Regions from separate parts of the Homo sapiens genome. Here all the other regions are linked to region 3. The links come from fine-mapping of genetic effects on gene expression. A gene starts in region 3. Each other region holds a variant in brackets. All regions are shown on one strand. Distances are between the middles of the regions.

Evidence for each region.
Region 1: its variant is fine-mapped to the expression of FMNL3 in memory regulatory T cells (Schmiedel 2018, PIP 0.95).
Region 2: its variant is fine-mapped to the expression of FMNL3 in blood mononuclear cells (TOPMed, PIP above 0.99).
Region 4: its variant is fine-mapped to the expression of FMNL3 in testis (GTEx, PIP above 0.99).

What each region holds. Positions count from the first base shown.
Region 1 is chr12:49,586,319-49,592,444 of GRCh38, forward strand. It overlaps FAM186B (family with sequence similarity 186 member B), which reads right to left. Exons shown (of 7, transcript NM_032130.3): 6 at 2,136-2,305; 7 at 1,187-1,434. The coding sequence ends at 1,287. Among named protein-coding and RNA genes, the nearest start is that of FAM186B, 16 kb to the right of the region's middle. The variant C/CA (reference allele first, on the strand shown) is at 3,660.
Region 2 is chr12:49,659,693-49,665,818 of GRCh38, forward strand. FMNL3 (formin like 3) reads right to left here. Exons shown (of 26, transcript NM_175736.5): 5 at 2,274-2,357. Among named protein-coding and RNA genes, the nearest start is that of PRPF40B, 39 kb to the left of the region's middle. RefSeq lists enhancers at 3,196-4,134, 3,708-3,867. The variant T/C (reference allele first, on the strand shown) is at 2,864.
Region 3 is chr12:49,704,205-49,710,330 of GRCh38, forward strand. FMNL3 (formin like 3) reads right to left here and starts at 3,201. Exons shown (of 26, transcript NM_175736.5): 1 at 2,851-3,201. The coding sequence starts at 2,976. It overlaps LOC124902929 (a long non-coding RNA gene), which reads left to right and starts at 3,522. Exons shown (of 3, transcript XR_007063299.1): 1 at 3,522-3,635. It also overlaps the pseudogene COX5BP5. RefSeq lists a silencer at 2,845-3,614 and an enhancer at 3,635-3,784.
Region 4 is chr12:49,671,452-49,677,577 of GRCh38, forward strand. The region is part of intron 1 of FMNL3 (formin like 3); the gene reads right to left. Among named protein-coding and RNA genes, the nearest start is that of FMNL3, 33 kb to the right of the region's middle. RefSeq lists enhancers at 2,067-2,765, 2,989-3,078, 3,129-3,208. The variant C/T (reference allele first, on the strand shown) is at 2,403.

The DNA of each region.
Region 1 (6,126 bases), 120 kb before region 3:
AAGAGGGAAGAAAGGAGGCTGCTGCTTGGTGCTGTTCAAAATGAATCCCGTTTCTCACTATCCCTCTATATTTTCAGAAAGTTACTGACGTCATGAGTGTATGGGCTCAAGTGGGGTGCATACCCCTGATATTTATATGCACATATCTCCGTGTGTGGAAAGAACAAAGGGGCTTGCCCGAGACTCAGAAGCTGGGCAGATCCCAGGCAGGGAAGGGATGCGGAGAGGAGAGACCCCACGATGGGGAGGTCTTTGGGTAAGTTTAACCAAATCTCTGCCAGGCCAGGCCCCAGTTGACCACTGGGTTACAGTGTTCTCCCACAGTGTTGTTTTGGTTATTCTCCATTCTGTTCGCTGTATCTAAATCAACAACCAACAGCAACACACATGCACATCCCCCTTGGAAACCCTCCAGGAATTGGAAACCAGGTTTCTGCACTGGGTGGGCTGGAATGATAGGACTCTCAGCTGGAATGCTGGCCCATTTCAGAGCGCAGGTGCGGCCAGGGATTCGCCCTCTTTGATGCTGCTATGCCTCCCTGTCTCACTGAGGTCTCCAGTTGGAGGATGGGAGAAGCACCAGTATCTTCAGGCTCTTGGCTCTGGTTAGGTCTAGACTGGAGGCATCAGGACCCTCTCCCCATTGGGGATCTGTAACTGACACAGGGCCAGGGTCACAGGAGGCAGATGGGATTGCTCATGTAGAGAGGGTCCTTAAAAGAGCCTTGAGCCTCCAGTAGTGACATCTACAAGCCCAGAGAGGCAAAGGAGAGCTAAGACTTCTAACCAGAAAAGCCTCTTGTTGGCCCCTGGAGTCCCACCTCTGTCCCCTCAGCTGTTCTTTCTAGGGACCGTTCTTGAAGATAGTAAGGAAAGGAAGTGACAGGCCCAGGCCCAAGGCTCAGGTTTCTCAGGCAGTCCAAGGGCTCCCTCATCTCTCCCTCCCTACACCTGGCTCCCCTGAGAACCACCCCCAAGGCTAGGGTGAGATGGGGCTCTTCAGAATTTATGTGCAGCCCAGGAGGCCAGTGTGAAGGAAAAGCCCCCTGGTGGCCTCTGAGACACTAAGGAAACCCTTCACCAGAACCGAAGTGCTGTTGGCATGGGGACCCCGCTTACAGCCGCCGAGCAAAGGAACCAGGTTAGCCTCTCTCTATCTGGTGTGGGATAGCAAATGAGGTCATTGTTAAAGCCTGGAGAGAGATTTATTGGGGAGAATCCACATTGACCATCAGCCTCGCACCTTACTGGGCCTTCAGGAAGTTCAGGCTTTTGTGGCAGGAGGACTACACGTCCAGTGTCAACAGCCGGGGAATATCTGGGTGTCCCCTCAGCTGGTCCCGGGGAAGGCTGGCAGGGGTCTTTTTTTCTATTGCGTAACTGGAGGAGGCCACCTCGGTCTTCCAGACAGCCTCCATCTGCTTCCCCTGTTGGCTGGGAGTGGGGAGTTTGGAGAATGTGAAAAGCAACAGAGAGAGATTGAGATGCAAGAGACTCTCCAGAGCCATCAGGCCCAAGTGAGCTTTGTCTCCTTCCCTTCTCAAATCGAGTGTGTCACTGCCCTCCTCATCTCCCCTCCAACACTGAGTCTGAATCTCACTTCCTTGGGGCTCCTCTGGCTGAGGAGCTGCTGGAAGAGGTTCCCAGGGCGGCCCCTGTCCTTCAAGGAACAGGCCCTGGGGCAGAAGCCCTGATCTAGGCCATGCAAGGGTAGGTGTGGACCAGGGTCCTTTTAGCGCCCCAGAGGTTCACAGTGTCTCCAGAGCCTGCAGGTCACATGGTGGGGAGGTTCAGGCTTGTTTATAGGACAGACCAACGGCAGATGCCAAATCGATGCTCAGGGTAGAAAGGTTATAAGTTTTCAGGTGTGGGTCCTCAGAGTCTTTCCGTCGCATAGTTTGAAATGCACTGGTCAGGCTAGTCCCTGAAGCCCACACACTATGACATACACCCCACCTGTGGGTCAGTGGCCAGCACTGGGGAGGGCAGCTGAGAAGACAGGCACTTTGCAACTCGTAGGGTGATATTGGCCTGTTGGTGCCCTCACTTCACTGCCCACCTCCCCAGGCTGGTCACCCCTGCTCCCTGCCTCTTCACCCATACAGCTGCTGCCCCCTCAGCTTCCCAGAACCTACCGGGCCATCTGCAGGGGCACACATGCCCGGTGCCTAGACAGAAAGGGCTGCTTGTAGGTGGGGCCACTGGGGCGGATGTGCCGGGGTGAGGCTGCAGGCAACTTGCATTTCTTTGGCTTTGGCGAGGTGACCTCAGGGATGTTCAGGTGAACGTTCCACTCCAGCTGGAGCTAGAGGAACCAGCAGAGAGGCATCAGGGAAACAGGAAGTTATCTCCTCTCTAGGTCGTGAGGAGGCTTTGTCTGTTTGTTGGTGCCCCTGCTGGACTCAGGGCTGAGTGGAGAGGGTAAGGCCCAGGGAATCCCTTCAATTAGAAACCCTGGGACCACAAGGTATCAGACCTTTGCTGGAAACTCCTTGAACTCTTTTTTGCTGTGTTAGTTCCTGTTTTCTCCTTTGTTGTGAGGAAGCTGGATAATGGGCAAAACAGCAAGGAAGAAAATGAAACCAGAGCAGCTGGAACCCATGAGAGCAGCTCCAGGCAGGGTTCATGGCAGGGGGCCAGGTTGTGCCTGGACTGCACTGGGTATCTTTTCGTCCAGCCCCAGCCCTGGCACTGGGTGAGGAGCTGGGGGAACCTTCACAGCCACTCAAAGAATTGTCATATCCCTTTCATTCTCAATCCCCAAACAAACAGCCAGTCAAGATGCCTCTAGGAGATTATCTGGACTGGTATAAGGTGATATGAAACCTCCATGGCCAAGGCTCTTCTGGCTGCCTGATGCCAGCCCTCACACCAATGCCTCAGCATGCTGCCTCCCCTAGACTCAGGCCACTGCCACTCAAGACTCGGGGGCAGGTGGTACCTCCTGACCCAACCCTAGGGCAGGTCCCAGCAGGCTCTGACTCACAACTTTGGGCTCCTCCAATCCCTCCAAGCTGCCCCTAGGGACCACGTCGGCACTTGCTGCTTTTCTGCTCCTGGCAGCCTGAGCCTCAGGTCTTGAGCTGAGGGCTGCTCATCCCAAAGCCAGTGTTGCAAATGAAGGAGTCTGGCAGGGAAAGATCCCATACTCATGGGTGGTGCAGAGAGCTATTCCTGCCATATGAAAGATGGATATGGATATAAACTCAATACTTGTATAATGGGGACAAAATTATTAATCGTCCCAAAGGGTATGAATTCTAATTTGCTGGGTTCCTGTTTTACATCTGTTGTAGAGAATCTAGAAACGGGCAAAACATCAGTGAAAAAAAAAAGACAAAGAAGTTAAATCTATATCTATATATCTATAATAAAGAATCAAGGCTGGGCGCGGTGGCTCATGCCTGTAATCCCAGCACTTTAGGAAGCCAAGTCAGGCAGATCATGAGGTCAAGAGATTGAGACCATCCTGGCCAACATGGTGAAACCCCGTCTCTACTAAAAATACAAAAATTAGCTGGGTGTGGTGGCGTGCATCTGTAGTCCCAGCTACTCGGAAGGCTGAGGCAGGAAAATTGCTTGAACGCAGGAGGCAGAAGTTGCAGTGAGCCGAGATCGCACCACTGCACTCCAGCCTGGCAATAGCGAGACTCTGTCTC[C/CA]AAAAAAAAAAAAAAAAAAAAAAAGTCAAAAGAGGAGAATATAGGAGTCTTTTATTCCATTATTCCCAAGTTTCAGCTGTTATCTCTTTGGCCTTTTTTTTTTAATTGTATACTATTTTGCATTTATTTTAAATGTCAGAAGTTTCAAGGATTCCAATATAAGTTTTTTTTTAGTAATTCAGTATATAGACAATTAGTGGTATACACATGGATCCATTATCCCTCAGTGGTGTATGGCCCATAGATTAGTAATCATTTATCTAAACAAAGAGAAAAGGAAGTTTGGGTGTCAAAGACTGTTTTGGAGTTTAAAGAGGTTTTCTGGATATGAGAGAATGGCAGAGGAGAGGAAAAAATAAGAAAATCTCATGATTGTGAATTATAAGTTGGACCCACTTTAGTGATTATGAGTGACCCAATTAAAGATTGGGGTTACTTTTTTATTATTTTTGGCAGGTGAGTGAGCATTATATCTCTGAATGGGATATAATGGATACAATGGCATAACCAGATCACATAACATCTTGGGATTTATTTGGGTTGTACTTGATGTATGAATGTTAAAACCAGGTCTATACATTTTGGATGGTTACTTTACTGAATTCTGCCAAGGTAAAGTGGGGTGGTGGGGAGGGGGTGAAAGAGTAAGGTTTCTGCTAGTGTTAGTTTTCAGAGGAAAAACACGAGGTCTCAGTAAGGACATGGAAAAGATGAGGATAGGCTCCAAGTGTAGAGATTAAGAGAGTGAGTGATACCTTCTCATTCTGTTGGCCTAAACCCATATGGTTCCTAACCCATAGGGCATGGTCCCCTGAGGGGCAATGGATTTTTTGCCAAGAGCCCAAGAATGTAAGTACATACTTAAAATTGTACAAAAATTGAATAAATAAAAAGTAAAACTACTAGTATATAGGAATTCTTGGAACTTTTAACATTTAAAATGAATCTTAATAGTATAGGATTTTTTTTGAGGAGATAAACTAGTGATAATGGAATAACAAGGACTAGTTTACTATTCTCCTGTAAACAACTAGTAGGCCAAACAGAATAGATGAAAAAATGATGTATACCCATTCAGACAACAGGCAGTGCAGGTCAATGATCCCCAAAAGGAATGAAACAAATGAGACAATGTCCAGGCCCCAGCACAGGGCAGGGAACCCAAACAGAAGCCAGCAGCCTTGCTGAGATGAGGAGACAGCATCTGGGTATCAGGGAAGCCAAGGTGACTAGAATTTGAAAACCAGAGTACCAGAGAGGAGGAAGCCACATGGCAAGGAATCTCCAAAGCTCTGCAGAGGGGTCCCGTTAAGTCTCTGTGCAGGCCTGGGAGGAAACCACCAAGGCTGGGGGAAGAATCACTGGGCAAGAACAGGCAGAACCATCCTCAGAGCTCATATATCCCTGGGAAGAGTTTGTGTTTACATCTGTAAAATACCGAAAGAAAAAGCTGCCCACCTAGAATTCTACATCCAGCAAAAACATCTTTCAAAACTGAAAGCTGAATAAACCTTTTCAGACACCAAAGCTGAGAGGATTCATCACCAGCAGATAAGCAGTGTGAGAAATGTTAAAGGAATCCTTCAGGCAGAAGGAAAATGATACCCAAAATACATTTGGATCTACACAAAAGAGTAAGGAGCACTGGAAATGTTAAGTGTGGGGGTAAATAGATTATTCTTTTCCCTTTGCTTAAGGGAAAAGTAATAACAATGTACAGTTGTCCCTTGCTATCCGTGGGGTATTGGCTCCAGGACTCCTCACAGGCACCAAAATTTGTGGATGCTCACATGCTTATATAAAATGGTGCAGTGTTTGCATATCACCCACCCACATCCTCCTGTATATATTAAATGGTCTCTAGATTACTTATAATACCTAATATAATATAAACACTATCTAAGTAGTTGTTATACTGTTTAGGGAATAACAAGAAAAAAAAGTCTGTTCATGTTCAGCACAGACACAACCATCTATTTTTTTCTCCGAATATTTTTGATCTGTGGTTGATTGAATCCACAGATGCAGAACCCATAGATACAGAGGGCCAACTGCATTAGGGGATTTATAAGTTACATAGAGACAAAATGTATGACAACAGTAGGACAAAGGCCGGGAGGGAAGAAATAGATGTATACTATTGTAAGGTTCTTACACATGAAATAATATTATTTGAAAGTAGACTATGATAAGTTAAAGATTTATATTGTAAACCCTAGAGTGCAGTGGCTCACGCCTGTAATCCCAGCACTTTGGGAGGCCGAGGTGGGCAGAGCACATGATCAGGAGTTCGAGACCAGCCTGACCAACATGGTGAAACCCAGTCTCTACTAAAAATACAAAAATTAGCTGGGCGTGGTGGTGTGCACCTATAATCTCAGCTACTCAGGTGGCTGAGGCAGGAGAATCTCTTGAACCTGGGAGTTGGAGGTTGCAGTGAGCCGAGATCATGCCACTGCACTCTAGC
Region 2 (6,126 bases), 45 kb before region 3:
TGTGAGCCACTGCACCCAGCGACCGTCAGCAGTTTGTCAATGTGGCCAGGACAAGGAAGATGGCCAAGATCACAAACTCACAGGGACTCCTCTCTTATCATCCTCACTTCAGGATATACCCCTCTGAGAAACAGTCCCTCTCCTCCTTCTTGTCCTCTTCCTCCATGTAGGTCATTAAAGACTAAGGGAGCATCTCTTACAGGTTCTTCTCCCCCAAGAAGCATTCTGCTCAGACATGGGGTCAAAGGCACAGAGGTTGAGGCTTTCTGGAATAGGAAGGGATATTTACAGACGTCAGAATGTTCCAAAGGAAGTGGGAGCAGGCTTTAGTGTCCTCATGATCAGGAGGTGTTTAATGGGGCTCTCAAGTAGACATCAGAGGAACCTCCTGACAGGGAAACAGCTTGCTGATTCCATCAGTAACACTGTATCCTCTTGTACTGGTATATGCAGTTTACAAACAATTATCTTCACTCCAACTCTATTTAGCCTCACCCTTTCCCTCTCAATCCTTCCTAAAACACACATTCTCTCCCCCACACAAAGTCCTTCTTTTTTAAAAACAGAGTCAAAGGTATTGCCATGGACACTACAATACTGAGGTTCCAGGGTACTCTTGGTTTAGGGTGGCTGGAATTTGTTTGCTTTTCAAGTAAGAGAGAGAGGCTTATTTGGAAAAATGAGCTACATTTTTTACTATAAAAGCTCTGAATTTTTTAAGAAAAATTATTTCACCAAATGTTTTTCATTTCTTTCTATAAAAAGAATTTTTTTTAGGAGATAAGAGAATCACACGAGGTATGACTTCTGCTGAGACAAGAATGCAGTGGGCCACTCTTGGTTTTAACAGGATAACCTGGAAAAGGTGAGAGGCGCCGAACATAGAAGAAGCATCAAATTCCTAAGGGGATGACACTGAAGACCTGCTGGACAAAGAAGAATGGCCAAGGGGGCAAGGACAGTAGTTAGAAAAGTGGAAGCTGGTTGGGAGCAGCGGCTCACGCCTGCAATCCCAGCACTTTGGAAGGCCAAAGCAGGGTGGATCGCTTGAGCCCAGGAGTTCGAGGCCAGCCTGGGCAGCATGGTGAAACCCCGTCCCTACTAAAAACACACAAAAAGTTAGCTAAGCATGGTGGTATACACCTGTGGTCCCAGCTACTCAGCAAGGCTGAGGCAGGACTGAGGCAGGAAGACTGCTTGAGCCCAGGAAGTCAAGCCTGTGGTGAGCCAAGATCGTGCCACTGCACTCCAGCCTGGGCAACTGAGCAAGACCCTGTCTCAAAAAAATGTCAGGGCTAAGTCCTAGGATGGAGGAGTTTCCTGGGACGCTGGGGAAAACTAGGGAAAGTTATGGGCAAACTGGGAAGATTGGTCTCCCTAAGGCTGACCTGTCTTAGGTGTAAGTCTAAATGTGTTGGTCATTATGTTTATTATGTAATTTCATATATTCAGGTAATTGTGGTAGGGTATGCCACTTTAAATAATAATAATGAAATTAACAATAGATCTGCTACCACAATACAGACCCGGTATGTTCCAAATAATACTAAGTGCTTTAACACACGTTATCATCTAATTTTCACAACAACCCTGGAATGTGGATCTCCTTTCATAGAAGAAGACACAAACTTGCTTTGAAGTCACACAGATAGTAAATAACAGAACTGAAACCCAAACCCAGCTTTGTCTGACTCAAGAGCTCTCATTCCTTCCACTATACCAGGCCGCCTTTTCTGTGCTAACTCACTTCTGGCTGCCTCCAAGCCCCCCTGCCTGCTAGAAAAAGACTCCTGAATACTTCATTTTTCTATCCAGGTCAAAAGGAACTCACTGTTCCTGGGTTCTTCAACAATGACCTGGAGTAACCTTCTCACATCTGGAAACCCAAAGTTGCTTCTGGAAGACTCAACTCTGCAAAGATGAATGGATCCCACCAAGGCATCTCTACCAGAAGCCAGGACATTTCCCTGGATTGCTCACAGCTTGGCATTTGGATGCCTTGGGTTCTGATTCCAAGCTCCCTTTCCATCTCTCTGTCCTGTTCTCCAAAATGCATCTTATCTTCTACTCCAGCCAAGTGCCATTCTTCACTGATCCCCAGACATCTCCGGGCTTGCCTGCCTACTTCCACACCACTGCTTGGGCTACTCCTTCCTGTCCAGGATTCCCATTTCCATCTTCATTGTTGAACTCTCACCCTTCCTTATCAAAGTAGAATGGAACTATGTCCTCCCCCAACTGGTCCCCAACTTCAGCCCCGGGGTGGTACTCACATGACAGAACACTGGGCAAAGGACAGGTAATCCACCAGTACATCCAGGCCTTTGTTTTCATCATTCAGAAATTCCCGCACCCACCTGCAGATAAAGGAAACACAGTGGAAGGGGTCTGCTAAAAGTGGGTCAAGGATGAGGGGGGTGACATGCCTCTGACCCAACACCTCCTCCTCCTGGAACCCAGCACCAGGCTAAGAAAATTCTGAAGATCAAAACCCATGACAGACCCATCCACGGTCATGGACTTCCCCTAGGCAGGGAAGTCAGGGATGGGGAAAGTTCAGGCCCTTCTAATGCCACTTGCTTTATCGTGAAGGTGCTTCAGACAAACAAGCTCTCAGGTACTCCCTCCTTAAGGGCCAGACCCTGGCTCAATTATTTTCTGCATCCCTCCACATGTCCTTGCTCAGTGTTTGTTGGAAGAATTTAGGAAGCATCAAGAGCATTTACTACAGGCCCGTGTGCAGAGTTGTGCTTGACCGAAGCCAGCAAGTCTCCAACTTGACTGAAGCCTCAGTCAAGACCCCAGCAGGAAGGGTCAAGGAGAGCTCTGGAACAGAGGCATCCTGGGGCAAAGCACTCTCTAC[T/C]AAGTTTAAGGAGAGGAGTTTTAGAAAGCAGTGAGCAGAGATGTATAGAAGTTCTGTATTTAGTCATGTTGAGTTTGGCAGAACCAGAAAAAGCATGGGAGATGAACAGGAACTCAAGGAACTCCAGGATGTCTATGACCACTCAGAGTCAACCTGAGTACGTGGGTCCCCCTCAGCCAGGAAGGTAGACAACAAAGCACCTAAGGACCATATCCCAGGGCATTATTTTCCCTTCTGCTTTCAGTTCTTTTGGGCTGAGATATTCCTGGAATGAAAGTCAAGGGCAAATCTAGGGAACTGTTATATGACAGGTTCATTCCATAGCAGAAACATAAAACGCTCAGGATGAAACCCTAATCTAGAGTGCTCTACTCCTTCAGAATTTCTGGGGGTCTTTATAGGAAAGCTCCTCCCAAACTGCCCTGCGGGGCCTTTCTCCCCAACAGCTGGAAAACCAGTGCCATGTTGGCCAGCCACACCCCAAACTACAGAGAGACTCTGGAGCTACAACACCAGGCCCAGCTGAGATTAGGCAGCAGGCTCTGGCTGAAGCTGACTGACACCGGAGCTGCCTGAAGTTAGCTTCCTCTCTGGGGGCCAACAGGCCTCCCGTTTCCTGTCTGTCTGCTCTCCAGCTCCCCACCCCCTTCTCATTTCCTGTCTGAGTCTATACTGCTATTTCGGGATCTTGACACTTTGAGGAGAGGTTAAAGGGTGCTTAGGCAAGGCACAGAAACCAATACAAACCAGGGAAAGAGGAGCTGGAGAGGCTCTGGAATCCCACTTCCCAGCCTATCCCTCTCCAGAACCTGAGTTCCCATCTGCTGCTCCTGCACACCCAACTTCTGCAAGCCCTGGGGCTGATCAGGCTGTGACCAAAGCAGGATCCTCCTCTCCCCACCTTGCCCTGGGTTCCTGCCACCCTGAAGCACCCACAATCTGACAAACTCTTCCTGCCCAGAAATCCAGGAAGGATCTTGGTCCTTCCACATAACTCTACCCAGAGAAGCCGCAGTTCAGATGGCAGGCATGCCTAAAATGCCAGGCACTGAGCTATTCCCTGGGAACAAAGGACCAGGTCCAGGACCTCTAACTTGTGTGCCAACTGCCAAGAGGCCCCAGGCCTGGGAACCACGCTGCTTTGGACATAGCTCCTGGCCAGCAGCCAGAGGGGCAGGCACCAGGTAGAGGGGGCAGGCAGCAGGGACTATCATAAACTGCTCTGTGGCCTTCTCCCAATAAAAGCACACCCCTATCCTCAGATGACTACAGCAAGACTTAATCAAGAAAACAAGGCTAGGTACTAGTGGCTCCACTTTGGGATCCTCAAGGAGGATCACTTGAGCCTAGGAGTTCAAGACCAGCCTAGGCAACTATCTCTACTAAATTTTTTTTTTTAAGTGGCCAGGCAGGCCAGGCACGGTGGCTCACATCTGTAATCCCAGCACTTTGAAAGGCCAAGACAGGCAGATCACTTGAGCCCATGAGTTTGAGACCGCCTGACCAACATGGTGAAACCTCATCTCTACTAAAAATACAAAAATTAGCTGGGCGTGGTGGTACACGCCTGTAGTCCCAGCTATTCGGAAGGCAGAGGCAGAATGGCTTGAGCCTGGGAGGCAGAGGTTGCAGTGAGCCAAGATGGCGCCTGGGCGACAGAGCTAGACTCCATCTCAAAATATAAATAAATAAATAAAATAAAATGGCCAGGCATGGGTGTGTGCCTGTGCTCCCAGCTACTTGGGAGGCTGGGATAGGAGGATCACTTGAGCCCTGGAAGTTGAGGCTGCAGTGAGTCATGATCATGTCACTGTACTTTATCCTGGGCAACAGAGCAAGACCCTGTCTTAAAAAACAAATAAACAAAAAGAAGACAGAAGGGCTGAGAGGGACAGAAGGGACCTATGGAGGAATGCGGAGTGGTAGGGGGCTCAGGGTGGCAGGTAGCACTCAGGGTTGCCATCGGTGTCCTTCTTGCCCTCACACACAGGGGTACTAAGCAGCCCCTGCCACTTTGTCCTTCAGTCAGTGAAGTCAGTGAAGGACTGACCAAACAAAGGAAGAGGCTTGGCCACACCTTTCTCAGCAGCTTGACTTTCAATGTCTGATTCACAGATGAGGTACAGAAGCCATACTCTGGCCACCAGAGCACAGTTACTGAGGCCAGGAACCATCCCTTTCCTGTTCTCTCCTGTGCTGTTTCCCTTGTGATTGCTGCTACAGCTGGCTACACACAGGTGTCCCCTCCCTCTAAAGAATCCTGGGAAGGCTTGCCCTGGGGGCGGATGAGGGCTGCTGCTACAACAGGAGGGGAAAGGCTAATGATGTCATTTGGCTGTCTCTAACCCCCTGTCAGGAAGCCTGGGCACCCCACCCCCACCTGGGCCTCCACTGCTCACTCATAAGCACTGGACATTTGTGCCAGGCCCTCCCATCAGGTCTATACCCCTGCCTGCAGTTCTACATCACGTGTCCCTCACTGTCCTTTTGCATAAGCACACATACGCACACATATACACACTTTCTCTCTCTCTCTCTCACTTTCATATACCTTTGCATATACCTTTGCTGATTACAGTTTCGTAACACTGAGGCCAATACCCTCTTTCACTGTACCTTACACATTAGCTCTTTGCTTGTTCAGCAATTCCTGGTTTCCCACTCAGGGACTGGAAAAAAAAAAAAAAGACTCACACAGTTCCTAAGGGCCCTATCAATGTGTTGGGGACACCAGGGTCTGTGAATATAGAAAACATTCAGCTCCTGCCCCCAGTGCCTTACATCTTTCCTGGTGCTTAAGGAAGCTTCTGCTCATGAACTAAGATTATCTTCTCCCAAACAAGCAAATAAACTTCCAGGCACCAAAAAGTCCAAATAGTCACCGAATGGGAACTAGGTCTCAGCTACCCAATATAGTATGTTCTCCCCACCCTCAGCCTTCTCTGAGCCTCGCTTGGCCCAGCACCAGGCCACAGGCAGACTCCAGTCTCAACTGCTGTGGGAATGTCTTCCACTCAAAGCCACAGGCAGAGGACCCCAGGAGAGGCCTCAAGCTTGCCAGAAACATCTAGTCAGCAGCTGGCAGAGCTGAGGGGGTAGAAAAGCCAGTAAAGAACCAGTCCAAAGCTCTGGGGAGCCAGAAGCCATTCAAGGGGCAACTCTGCCCCATGGCAGGGAAGATGAACAGGAACACCATCCTCAGAGGACACCAGACCCTGTGTGCCCAGCCAGCAGCCTGGGGCCAGATGAAGAGGCTATACGGC
Region 3 (6,126 bases):
CACTCTTCTAACCAAAGACTATGGATGAAACAGTTGAATCCACTCTGACTTCAAAGTCCATAAGCTTAACCAGGACACCACTATGTCACCTCAACAAACCTCCCAAATAGCTTTTTCAAAAAACCTAACCAATTATAATGAAGCTGACAATCTAGGAAAGAAAAAGGTGAGAAAGGAACAGTTTATCTGACTGTTTCACACCATCAACAAAAATAAGCTAATCTGGCCAGGCACAGTGGCTCATGCCTGTAATCCCAGCACTTTGGGAGGCCAAGGCGGGTGGATCACCTGAGGTCAGGAGTTCGAGACCAGCCTGGCCAACATGGCGAAACCCCATCTCTACTAAAAACACAAAAATTAGCCAGGCTTAGTGGCACGCGCCTGTAATCCCAGCTACTGGGGAGGCTGAAGCAGGAGAACTGCTTGAACCCGGGAGGCTGAGTTTGCAGTGAGCTGAGATCGTGCTGCCGCACTCCAGCCTGGATGACAGAGCCAAACTCCATCTCAAAAAAAAAAAAAAAAAAAAAAAAAAGAAGCTAATCTATAATCTATATTGAGTACTTACTGGGTGCCAAGCACCTTATATACAGGGGCTCACCTAATTCTCACAATCTCACCAGAACAGGATTACCTCCATTTTACAGATGAGGAAGAAGTCTAGGCTCAGAGAAGTTAAGATACTTGCTAAGCCAGAGTCCTTGATTTTTCTACTACACTATGCTTCTCCTGACTGTTCAGGAAATACCCCTAAGCCTGTACCTGGGTCAAACACCTGACTCAGTCAGTACTGTTCCCAAAGCATGGTAGAAAGGGTACCTTTCAGAACAGTGGACACAGGGACACTTAAGAGCCCCCAGAGAAGAACTCAAATCCCCAAGAAGGGATGATTTCCCTGTATTGGAAAACTGAGGTGAAATCCCGTCTCCTGAGACAACTAACTAGCTCTGGCCTGCCCTGTTCCAACCCTTCATCAGCAGCAGCTCAGGCACACAGAAACAAGACCAAAACAAAAGGCATGAGGAAACAAATCAAAATTTTATACAGAAAGGAAGGCATGCAAGTGGGTGGTCCAGTCCCCCATTTGACCTGGGTTCTCCTGGTGCTCTGGTGTCCTGGTTAACTAGGACATCACGTGCATTTTGTGAATATTAAGCCATTAGTTTGCTAACTAAACGAAATGGTCAACCAAGGGCCAATGAGAACATGATGGATTCTGGTTCTGAGCTCTCACAAAAAATGGCCTGGCAGCTCCCACCTAAGGCAGCCTCCCACCCAATCCACCTCACCCCATCCCTTTCTCCCCAGTTTCTATAGCTAACTTGTGTCAGCTTGCTGGGGATTTTCACACCCCCACCAGAGTGCAGATCCCCTCCCACTCTTTTCCCCAACAGTTGGGCTCTTGTTCTCAAGGCCACTAAGTCCCAGTCTCTCCTCCTCAGCCTGTGAGATGGTCACAGCACATTGGTAATCACTGACTCACCCGATCCCCCGAGGAGGCTGGGGGAAATGCAGAGGGCCACAGGATGTATGGCCCACATCCCTTTGGCCCTTCGCAGAGCTGGCGGGCAGAGAGGTGCCAGCGACACCACTTCCCCTTGGAACACTGTGGACCCTCTTTGAGCCAGCTCTGGTGCCAGTGGGCTGATGTCAGATTCTCTACCATCGGAGAGGCCAAGATCTCTAGACAGCTCCACTGTTGCCAACAGATCTAATCTCCTTATTCCAAGGCAGATGAAATCCAATAAGGCTGCTAAGTCCACAACTTATCCCTCCTGATGGGCAGAGGCAAAGGCAGAGTCGGCCATACCAACAATAACGCCAGAATTATTACTGCTTCTTAGAAAACTCTTTGGGGAAGTGAGAACTATTTCCCCAAATTTCTCAAAGATTAACCCCGGTTTACCAATGTTTTCGCTCTGCAAAACTTCATTTTCAGCGCAAACATATTTTCTGGCTCCTTCCCGGTGATACCAGCTCAGAACCTCTCGCTTCATAGAGCCACTGACATCAATGTCCAATTCCCACACCAAAGAAGAATCCCAAAGTCAGCTCTAAAAACCCATTTATACAGACCGTTTGAAACCCACAGAAAGACTAAAAAGCACAGGCTAAACAACACAAACCAGTCACTATGGCTTAACGTGAAAAGGGGGGGAGGAGGCGGGATGGTTTGTGTATTGTTTCACTTGGAGAAATACCCCAGTGAAATGGTTTATCCACATGTTCAGCCTTTCAGGCAAATCCACTCTAACTTAGCAGGATGCCTGCAGGCCGTTCTGAAAATAAGCAGAATGGCATACTCTTTATTCCACCCCCTTCAGGAGCTGCCAGCCGCCTCCCCATCCCCCTCTCCCCCCAAACATCTGGTCTGGGCTGGGAGTGGGACCCACTCCCTGGGAAGCCTCCATGTTCGCAGGAGAGGCGGTGTCCCCACTCAGGGAAGCCTGCTGAGGAGCGAGCCGGCCGCGCTTCTGAATTCCCCCCACCCGCGAGAGGCTCCGGGCTGAGAATGCTAGGGACGGGGAGCCTGGCGAAGAAGCGGGGAAACGGGAAAAGGGCAGCAGAAGGGGGAGGAAGAAGGAGGGAGAAGCCTGGTTCCTAGGACGGTCCCGAACTGGGGACTTCTCCTAAGGGTCCAGCGGTGGAGGCGTCGGTCCCGAGATCCCCGACGGGGCTGTCCGGGCCGGCCAGCGGCTGCTCAGAGGTTCCTGGGAAGACACTGGAGGCCGGGATCCGTTCGGGACCCCGACTGAAAGGGTGGGCGGGACGGGGGCCCAGCACAAAGTCCCAGCCCGGGCGTCGGGACCTGAGGGGCGGTACGCGGGGGAAGGGGCTGGGCTCAGCTCTCACCAGCACCAGGGCGAACCTTTCCTCCAGCTCACAGGGCTCAGGCATCGGCATCTTGCCGGGCGGCAGCAACAACGGGACAGAGGGGGGCTCTCCCGGGACCCCCTCGGCGCTCTCCAGGTTGCCCATCGCGGCGGGGCCCCCTCAGGGGCCTCGGCCCCCCACCTCCACGCTCCGGAGCTTTCGGCTCCGCGGCTCCGACCAGGCTCCTCCCTCAGCGCCGGCTCCCCGAGTCCCGACTCCTCGGCCCCGTCGAGGGCGCCGGGGGTTCCCTGGAGTCCCGCTGGCGGGGGCGCGCGGCGAGGGCGGAGGCAGCGTAGCGGACAGCCGCACCGAAGCAAGGCGGACGGAGGCGGCCGGCTCTTGCTCACACCCGCCGCCTCGCCGCGCTCGGCGCGCCGCCCGGGCGCTGCCCCTCCCCGCCCCCCGCGCTCTTTCCCTTCCCCCGCCAACCTCGCTTCCTCCCACCCACACCCGGCCGAGACTCGGGCTTCCCCCGCGAGCGCCGACTGCAGCCCGCGCGACGCGCGCCCCATTCATGCAGGCCCCGCCTCCCGCCCAGAGGCCTCACAGGCGGCCCGGCCCGCCCCACCTGCGCCCGATTGACGGCCGCGTCTGCCAATCACAGCGCCTCCCGCCCTTGACGGCCTCGTGCCGGGCGCCGAGCGCTCCCTGGCGGCCTCAGCCGGCATCGAATCACCGCGGTTCCCAGAGGGCGTGAGGGGCTGGCGTGGACACACCGGGAATGGACCGTACCCTTTTTCAAAAGGAACTCATGATGTATACAAGTAAGTAAAATATTATACAAGGCATGGCGTACAAAACTAACTACAAGAGAAGTAGAAACAAGCAGGATACTCAGAAGAGGGAGAGAGATAGTACCTGTTAAGAGTCGGGGTGAGGGAGATCATAGTTGGACCAGGCATTGAGGGATGAGGAAGCCCTTACCCGACAGAGGCAGGGGAAAAAACGTTTGGGAGGAGAGAAGCTTAACCATCTGGCTGCGTGTGAAAATGGAGAGGCGGGAGAAGAACGCTGTTCTGGGCTCAGTCGGCGGCTGGGTCGTTGACATTTGCGGTGGAAATTTGTTGTCTAGCCGCCATCTTCTTCCAGTGAGAGCACCCCCTTTTCTTTTAGGAAACCACCTCTCCCCTCTTCTCAGTCTAAATGGAGCTGAATTTTATCCCCAGTTCCAAAGGACCGCATGACCCAGGCCCAGTCAGTCACAACATTTTCCTCCTCTACCCATGGACACTGTTTTAGGGATTGTCACTTGACCCAAGCCCAGACAATATGATATATCCAAGGCTTTCTCTGAAACAATCAGGAAAGAGGCACTCACTCTCTCTCCATTTAGGCTGCAAAATTATTAGAATGTAAACCTGCAGCCGCTGGTGGCCGTCTTATCATCACCTGTAACACATCAAGCCTGCTTGAGAATGAAGCCAGCGCAGAGGAGAGAAAAGCTATGAGACAGGACAAAATTCTAATGACATGCCAAGAACCTGGATCTAACCATGCCTGAAGTTATCACCTAGATTTTTAATTCATTTATTCAACAAATATTTATTTTAGAAAGTTTATTCTATGCCAGATACTATTCTGGGCATTGAAGGTACATCTGCGAACAAACAGGATATACATTGTGTCCTCTTGGAATTCACAATCTGTGTAGAAGGAAAGGTAGACAATAAACTAGACGAGTAAAATGTATAGATGTTAGTGATCAGTGTTAATAAAAATAAAACTGAAAGGTGATAGAGATGGAAGAGGCATTAAGATTTTAAATAGAGTTGCTTACTTGGGAGGCTGAGGCAGGAGGATCAATTGAAACTAGGAGGTTGAGGCTGTAGTGAGCCATGTTCATGGCACTCCACTCTAGCCTGGGTGACAGGGTGAGGCTCTGTCTCAATAAATAAATAAACACAGCTGTTGCTTGTCACAGGCATGATGGCTTCAAGGTTAATTTTCAGAGCTGGAGCGCTAGCCGCATAGGCCTGAGGGCTTACAGTCCCAATGGGGTGGTTGCAGTGTGCTTCATGGCATCTGGAGGTGGCGTTCCTACTGATGACAAGCAGATGACTGGGCTGGAGAGGGAGTTCATGACAGCCATGTATGAGATTGGACCCATACAATATATTACCCCCAAAGGCAGCTTCAGGCACCAGGGAAGACCCTAACAGCTCCCTCCATCACCAAGATAATAGTGAGCTGCATCGGTGAAGAGGACAACAGTGCTGTCAACTGGTTCTGGCTGCACAAAGGCGAGACCCAGTGATGCTCTAACTATGAACCCATTACAAGCTGATGTCCCACAAGTTGGCCCAGTGAGCCCTGGCACTAATTGCTCAAAATGTGCTGTAAAGTATCTTCTCTCCAATAAAGACTAGTCATTGCATTGGCTCCTTCTTCCCCTCCCTCATAATAAATATTTTAAATAGGATGATCAAGGAAGGACTCACTAATAAGATAGCATTTGGATAAAGATCTGAAGGATGCAAGGAAATAAGCTATGTGGCTATCTAGGGAAGAATTATCCAGACAAAGGGAATGGCAAGTGCATACTATCTCTGATGTATTAGAAGAACAGCAAAGATGCCAGTGTAGCTGGAGTGCAATGAGCAAGGAAAAGGGTAGTGAAAGATGAAGTCAGAAAGGTAACCAGAAGCCATATATTGTGTAGGATATTGTAGGCTATTGTGTGAGGACTTCGGTTTTCTCTAAGTAGGATAGGTAGCCATTGGAGGATTTTGAGTAGAGGAGTGGTATGATCTAACATGTTTTGTAACAGGGATCACTCTGGCTCTTGCATTGAAAACAAACCAATAGAAGTATGGACAGGGAGACTAGTTAGCAGGCTAGTGCAATCATTTGGGTGAGAGATGGTTTGAACCAGGGTGGTAACTGTACCGGTGGAAAGAAATGGTCAGATTCCTTATTAAAGACTTGAAAGTAAAGCTGATGGAATTTCCTGATAGTTTGAATGTGGAGGGTGAATGAAAGATAACTGCAAAGTATTTGACTTGAGCAACAAAGATGGTGGAGTTTTCACTAATTGAAATGGGGGAAGTGATAGGAGGAGTAGGTTTGGTGAGGGGGAACTGGAAAGGGAAGGTCAGGAACAAGTTTGGGCCATGTTGAGTTTGATTTGCCCTTTGGACATCCAAGTAAAGATATCCACTAAGCAATTGGATATAAATGAGTTTGCTCTTCAGACTCATATATGTCTTATTGCGATTGCACCCCGCTGGGACTGCAAGCCCTCAAAGCCTTCATGGC
Region 4 (6,126 bases), 33 kb before region 3:
GAGGTGGGTAAGGGGAATTCCCCCAAGCTCCAGCATTCTCAGAAGAAACGGGTCACTGGCTGCCAGTGGGAGCCACCTGCCAAGGGGGCATAAACCAGAGCCTGGCCTGGACAGTTCTCTTCCTGCTAGACAAGGGCATCAGGGCTTTTGCCTCTACCTGATAATGTGTGTGAGTCTGGCAGGGCTCCAATGTCCTAAGGAAGCCTCTCTGCCCTTAGGAATGACAACTTCCTGAGTTCCGGGGACAGCAAAGTAGCAAATTTGACACAGTTCCGGTCTCAGTCAAAAGTTTGTTTCCTTGACATTTTTTCTTCAGTGGTTCCACAGACACTGTAGGCTCCCAGAAGGCAGAAGCTGAGCTAAGTTCTTGCTAACTCCTCATTGAGACCCTTGCTGAGCAGAAAGGAGGCAGTGGCTGTCTTGGAAAGGAGAGGGCACTAAATGTGGGTGAAGTCAGAGGGCCCAAGATCAACTTTGGGCTCTTCAGAGTTATGGAGCCTTGGTGAACGCATCCATAAACGAGATAATCTCACTACTTCACAGGGTTTTAGCTGAGGATTAAAAGATAAATATTTTATGTCTGTATGTGTCTGGAACACTGTGGGTGTTCAACACAGTCCCCCTCACCGCCTGCTTCCTCCCGAAAATCTTGTGTCATGTTCTGATGTCCGAGGGACCTGCCCTCTTGCTTCTAGGCTGTCTCTCTCTCTCTGCCTCCATCCCACCTTCAGCAATTGCTTCGCAACACTCTGACTACAGAGCAATCCATTATCCCTTCACTGATCCTGCTCTGGCTTCCTCTAAGACTAGGCGCCAATTTTGGTATCATTATCTTGAGGGGTGGGGGACATGGCAGGAGACTCCAAGGAAGAAGTAAGGGAGGTAAGTCACAGCCAAAACAGTCACAATAGGAGATGTGAGGAAAAGGGGAAGATGAACTCAAACTGAAAGCAACTCTGGGACCGATTCCTAAATCACAGGGAACCAGCAAAACATCTAATAATAAAAATCTATAATGGGAAGAAGCCGAAAGGCATGGAGCTGGTGCTTCTCCAGCAAGGCTGCTCTGTTTGCCAGTTTGAGGCCAGGCAAATCTCCCTGCACAATGGGGTGCATGTGAGCAAGGCCTGGTCCCTCCAGCAAGGTTTCCTAACTCTCCACCTGACCCCTGACAGCCCCAGTCAAGCCAAGGAGGGAGGCAGCTCTGGTGGCAGAGGTTCCCTTCCCTTTCCCACTCTGCACCCCCAGCCCAGTGAGCCCCTCCTCATTTCCTTCCCACTGCAGGGGAAGGGAAATGCCGGTAGGGTTTGGAGTTTCCTTCAAAGCTGTGAGCTCTGCTCTGGGACTTGCCCCTACTCTGACAGTCTTCTTGAGCCAGGCCTGGGGAAAACCCAAAAAACAGAAATAGGAACCACCAAAAATTCCCAACTGTTTTTGTTGGTCCCTATCATGATAAATCTTAGGAACAGAGACCAAAATGGCATAGCTTCGAGAGACAGGGAGAGAGACGTTTGTAATGTTCCTGGGAAAGAAACTGGAGGCTTTAGGGAAGCTCCAGCAGGGGCTGTTTGTTTTGAGCAAATACAGAAAGTGAGAGGTAGTTTTATTAATGTTTTCCCTCTTGAACCACCTCCCACCAGGTTTCCTATGGCTGTCTTCTCCCAAGTGTGGTAGCCTCAGCCCCCACACTCAGCCCATGGGGACAGGGAGTCCTGAGAAACTGAATCTAGAACTGCCCCACAGATTAAATGAGTGCTGTCCTGGGCACCACACACTTCTCAACGTGCTGCTGAGCCCCTGACCGCAGGTCCAAGTCCTCCGTGGCATCCACAGATCAGCTCATTGAGCAGATGAGCAAAGATGGAAAGTGGCAAGTGGACACAAAATTTGGGAGTCCAGAAGACTGCTGAAGGAGGAGCTGTAACACAGTGTTCCCACCCCATGTTCCCATGTTCCCACTAGGATTCCCCTCACAAACCAACAGATCTGCCCCAAGCCAGTGGCAAAGCAGGCAACACAAGGCACAAAGGCCCATTACTAGCTGCCAAAAGGACAGAGTGTAAGGAACGGCCTCCACATGTCTCTACTGGTGGGCAGTAGGCACAGCTGTGGCCAGTTGGGCCCTGCTCCCAAAGGGCAAGAGCCCAAGGAGGTGGGAGGTACCAGCTCCTGCTGCCTTGGCCCCTTGGCGGCCACAGCCAGTCCTGCCGCAGTAGCAGCTCCTAGACAATGAGAGTTATTTTCAGCCAGCACTTTAACACAAGCCAGCTGGCCAGTGAGCAGGGCGGGAGTCCTCCTCCACCCAGCCCGCCCAGACGGCAGGCCAGCCGGCCCAGCCCATTGCCTACACTGCTGCTGCCGCCGCCTCCACGTCACTGTTTGTTTATCTCATTGTTCCAGCA[C/T]AGCTCCTTCTAACTCCCCTCAAAACTGCAATCCTTTGTAAAAGGGAATCAAAAAAAATCAGAGAGTTTGATCAAAGGTCCAAGAGCTAAAATTTTAAAAGGTCCAGACATGGGAAGTACGGCAGCCCCTCCAAACACCCACACTTTTCCCCAGCCTTGTGACTGGCTGGGGTAGCACAGGGGAGGAAATGGAACAGATGGATGGTCAGATCTCACTGCAGCTCTCACAGACCAAGGCCAAGCCTGGCTTCGCTGCCAACCTGGGGAGACAAAGCTCAAGACTGCTCTCCTTGCTTTGACTCCCTCCCATCCTCCTCTCCAGAGCTCGGGTTTGGAGAAGATAACTTGAAACAGACAGCCTGAAATGGGCTGAGTCAACTATGAAAGGTTCTGGGCAAAGATCTATATCCTGTGGCAGAAAGGAAATCACAGAACAGTCAATAACACTTGGCCAGAAGGACAGGCAACCCCCTGCCCTGCCTCGATAGAGTAGGGGCAAACACTTCAGCTGTACCACCCCACCACCACACCAAAGCACTCAAGAATATAAAGGATGAAAGGCAGCAGTTACCTCCCTGGACTCTAGGCCTCCAGCCCTGGTCCTGCCAAACTCTACAGCCTCCCCAGGGCAGCTCCCCATTACTACTCATCTCCTTCCTTATGTGACCCCACACACAGAAGCATGTGAGTACAAGTCTAGCTACACAGCTTTCTCTAGGCCCCAGCTGCCCTCTTAGACATCTGAACAAATTGCTTAGGTACCACATGACAAAAGGCATAAGAAAAATGGGTGCTCCTTAAGTGTCTGTAGTATCTTAGATCTGCCTTGCAGGTTTTGTTCAATTGAAGCTACCACTCTGGTGATGAGCTGCCAGGGAAAAGCCAGCTCTCACAGGCTCGGAACCATGTCTGGAGAACGTGCTTTTGTGGTCACTGAGGACTCTGTAACCAGAAATGACTTGCTGAGCAGTTACGGGCCAAGTCCCTGAGCAGCCTGGAAGAAAAAGAAATGGATTCACCAGATGTCTCTGGTTGAGCTCTGCAGTTCACACCAGGGAAGTCAGATGAAGGAGAGGTCCTAAAAGGCCAGCATCATTCAAACAAAGAGATGGCTTTTTCTAAATACAATTATACCCCCGGGGCCTCTTCTTCATCCTAGAGAATTCCTCCACCGGATCCTGAGAAGGCAAAGGATATTGGCCATGTCCCCAAAGTTGGTAAAGCCTCAAACTCTTTCCTCTGCCACACTGTTGGCCTCATACCTGACATGAGATAACCTCTGCAGGTAACCCTGAGGTCCCCAAACCCTGATTAAGGCCACCCTTTCTGGCCTGCCCAGTCAAAAAATATACAATCTCCGATAGGAGCTTCTGTCAGCGCTTCCCAACTGAGCACCCAGGCCCTAGTAAAAAGCTACTGCCACAGCAACTTGATCTGTCTATTGGCTCCTCGGCCCCTCCTCGTGGTTAGCCAGACCCACACACTCCCCAGTTACGCAGAATGGAAAGTATTCTGCTGGGGGCAGCTTATTTTCCAAAGCCAAGGAGTCTTGGGGCAGAGCCTCGCATTCTCCCTGCAGCCAACCAACGACCTCCCTCTCTTCATGAGGTTCTGTCCTCCCACCTGGGGAGCCCAATGGGCAGTGCTACCTCTCAGAGGACACAATATTTCTGGGGTCACAACTCCCTTTCTCCTCATACCAACAGGCCCAGTGAGTCTCCCTCCCAAGGTCTCTCATCTATATTTGCCCTTCCATTCCCACTGTCATCACCTGGGTGGGCCGTTACTGTTCACTTGCCGCCCTCTGGGATAAGCTTCTAGCTGGCATCCCTACTTCCAATACTTTCCTCCCTGCCATCCTGCACATGAATGAAACTTTCAAACTTCCAAGCACATAAGATAAATCATGTTTCTCCTTGGTTCAGAAATCTTTTTTGACTCCTTATCATTTATATGAGAAAACCTGAGCTCCTTGGCCTATTGTTCTTAGCATCTTACAGTAAGAGCTTCTGAGGTAAGATTCTCTCCAGGCTGGCCCCAGCTTCTCTGACCAGCCTCATCCTCTCCCACTCTATGGAATCTCTCTCTCCTGGGACAGCCACTCTTCCCATTCCTTAACCCTAGGATTTGCTTGTGATTGATGTTTCCCCAATCTGCTGACTCCCTACCTACTACCTACTACCTGACTTAAAATCCAGTAGCTCTATGACTACCCAACCTAAAATAATCAGCCCCTCTCTTGAGCTCCAAGCATAATCACATTTAAAGAATAAAATGGCAGAGACCTGCCTGTTATCCCCCAACCTCTTCTCCTCCTCCTCCTTAGTAGTGAACCTCCAACGCTGAGTTGGACACTTGACAGCCTAGAATTAATATGTTTGTCAGCTTCCCTTGCATTTAGGTATGGCTATGTGATCATGTGGGATGTAAACAGAAGTCGTGTGCACAACTTCTGAGAAATGTCATTAAAGGGAGGGAATATAACCTTCTTTTCTCCTTTCTGCTTCTAGCTAGTTGGAATATAGACAGTGGACGAACCTTCAACAACTATTTTAGACCATGAAGTGACCTTGGAAATGAAATCCACATGGATGAAATAACAAGAGAGAAAATACCAGGACACTGATACCATGGACCTTTAGCACAAATTGAATGTTTCATAGTGGGTTTTTTTTTTTTTTTTTTTTTTTTGCATATGCTTTCTCTATTCACAACTAGAAAGAACATAAACTCCTTAAGGGTAGGGGCCGTCTTATCCTTCTTTGAATCATGTGCAGGTGCTTAATAAATAAGTGATTGATCCTGCTCCTACCACTCCTACCACCAAGTCCCTTATTTGGTCTCCTGGTTAACTGGGGAAAGGGAGGATCCTTTAACTTTTTACCACTGTCCTTACTATTTCTGAGTTCTCTTATCTATAATCTGTCTTATGTCCTATAGCACAAATCACTTTATATATTGCTTTCCCCTCAGCAAACTCCTACTTTTCATTCTGAGTTTCAACTTCAGTTTATGCCATAATCTAAGCCACTTCCCTGCTCTTCTCTTTAACCAGACTCATCTTCTTATAACCTGCTAGAACACAGGCTTCTGAGAACAGGAATCACCATCAGCTTGTTTAGCACTTTAATAGGTGAGCAATAAAGATTGGGCAAATCGAATTTCTCCATTCGTATATTCCTTCTGTCCCTAAGTTTTCTACTCCATTGTACCCCAGAGAGATTACCTCCTTTCGAATTGCCAGCCATGCTCCTCCTCCAATTCACAACAGGTGAAATCTACCATCTCTAGCAAATCCTTCATAAATGACAGTAGTAACATCCACTCCCCTAACAGTGTCTCTGCACATTTACTAATTACTTTTAAATGTGTTCATGGAATTGTGACTTATGGTTAATGTTTCTTCACCTTTTCTTGGACAATCAATATATATGTTTATCATAAATCTCAGTGACCCTCCTAGAGGCACACATACAATGTAGTGGTTAAAGCACTAACTGTGAAGCCACACTACCTGGGTTTGAATCCTAGCTCCACCACTTACTAGCTGTGTGGCTTTGGGAGAGTTATTTAATCTCTGCAAGCCTCAGTTTCCTCACCTGTAAAATGGAGGCAGGAATAATAGTACTTACCCCATAGTGTTGCTATGATGATTAAATAAGTTAATATATGTAAAGCATTTAAATCAGAACCTATATAGTAAATATTACACATAATGCTACCT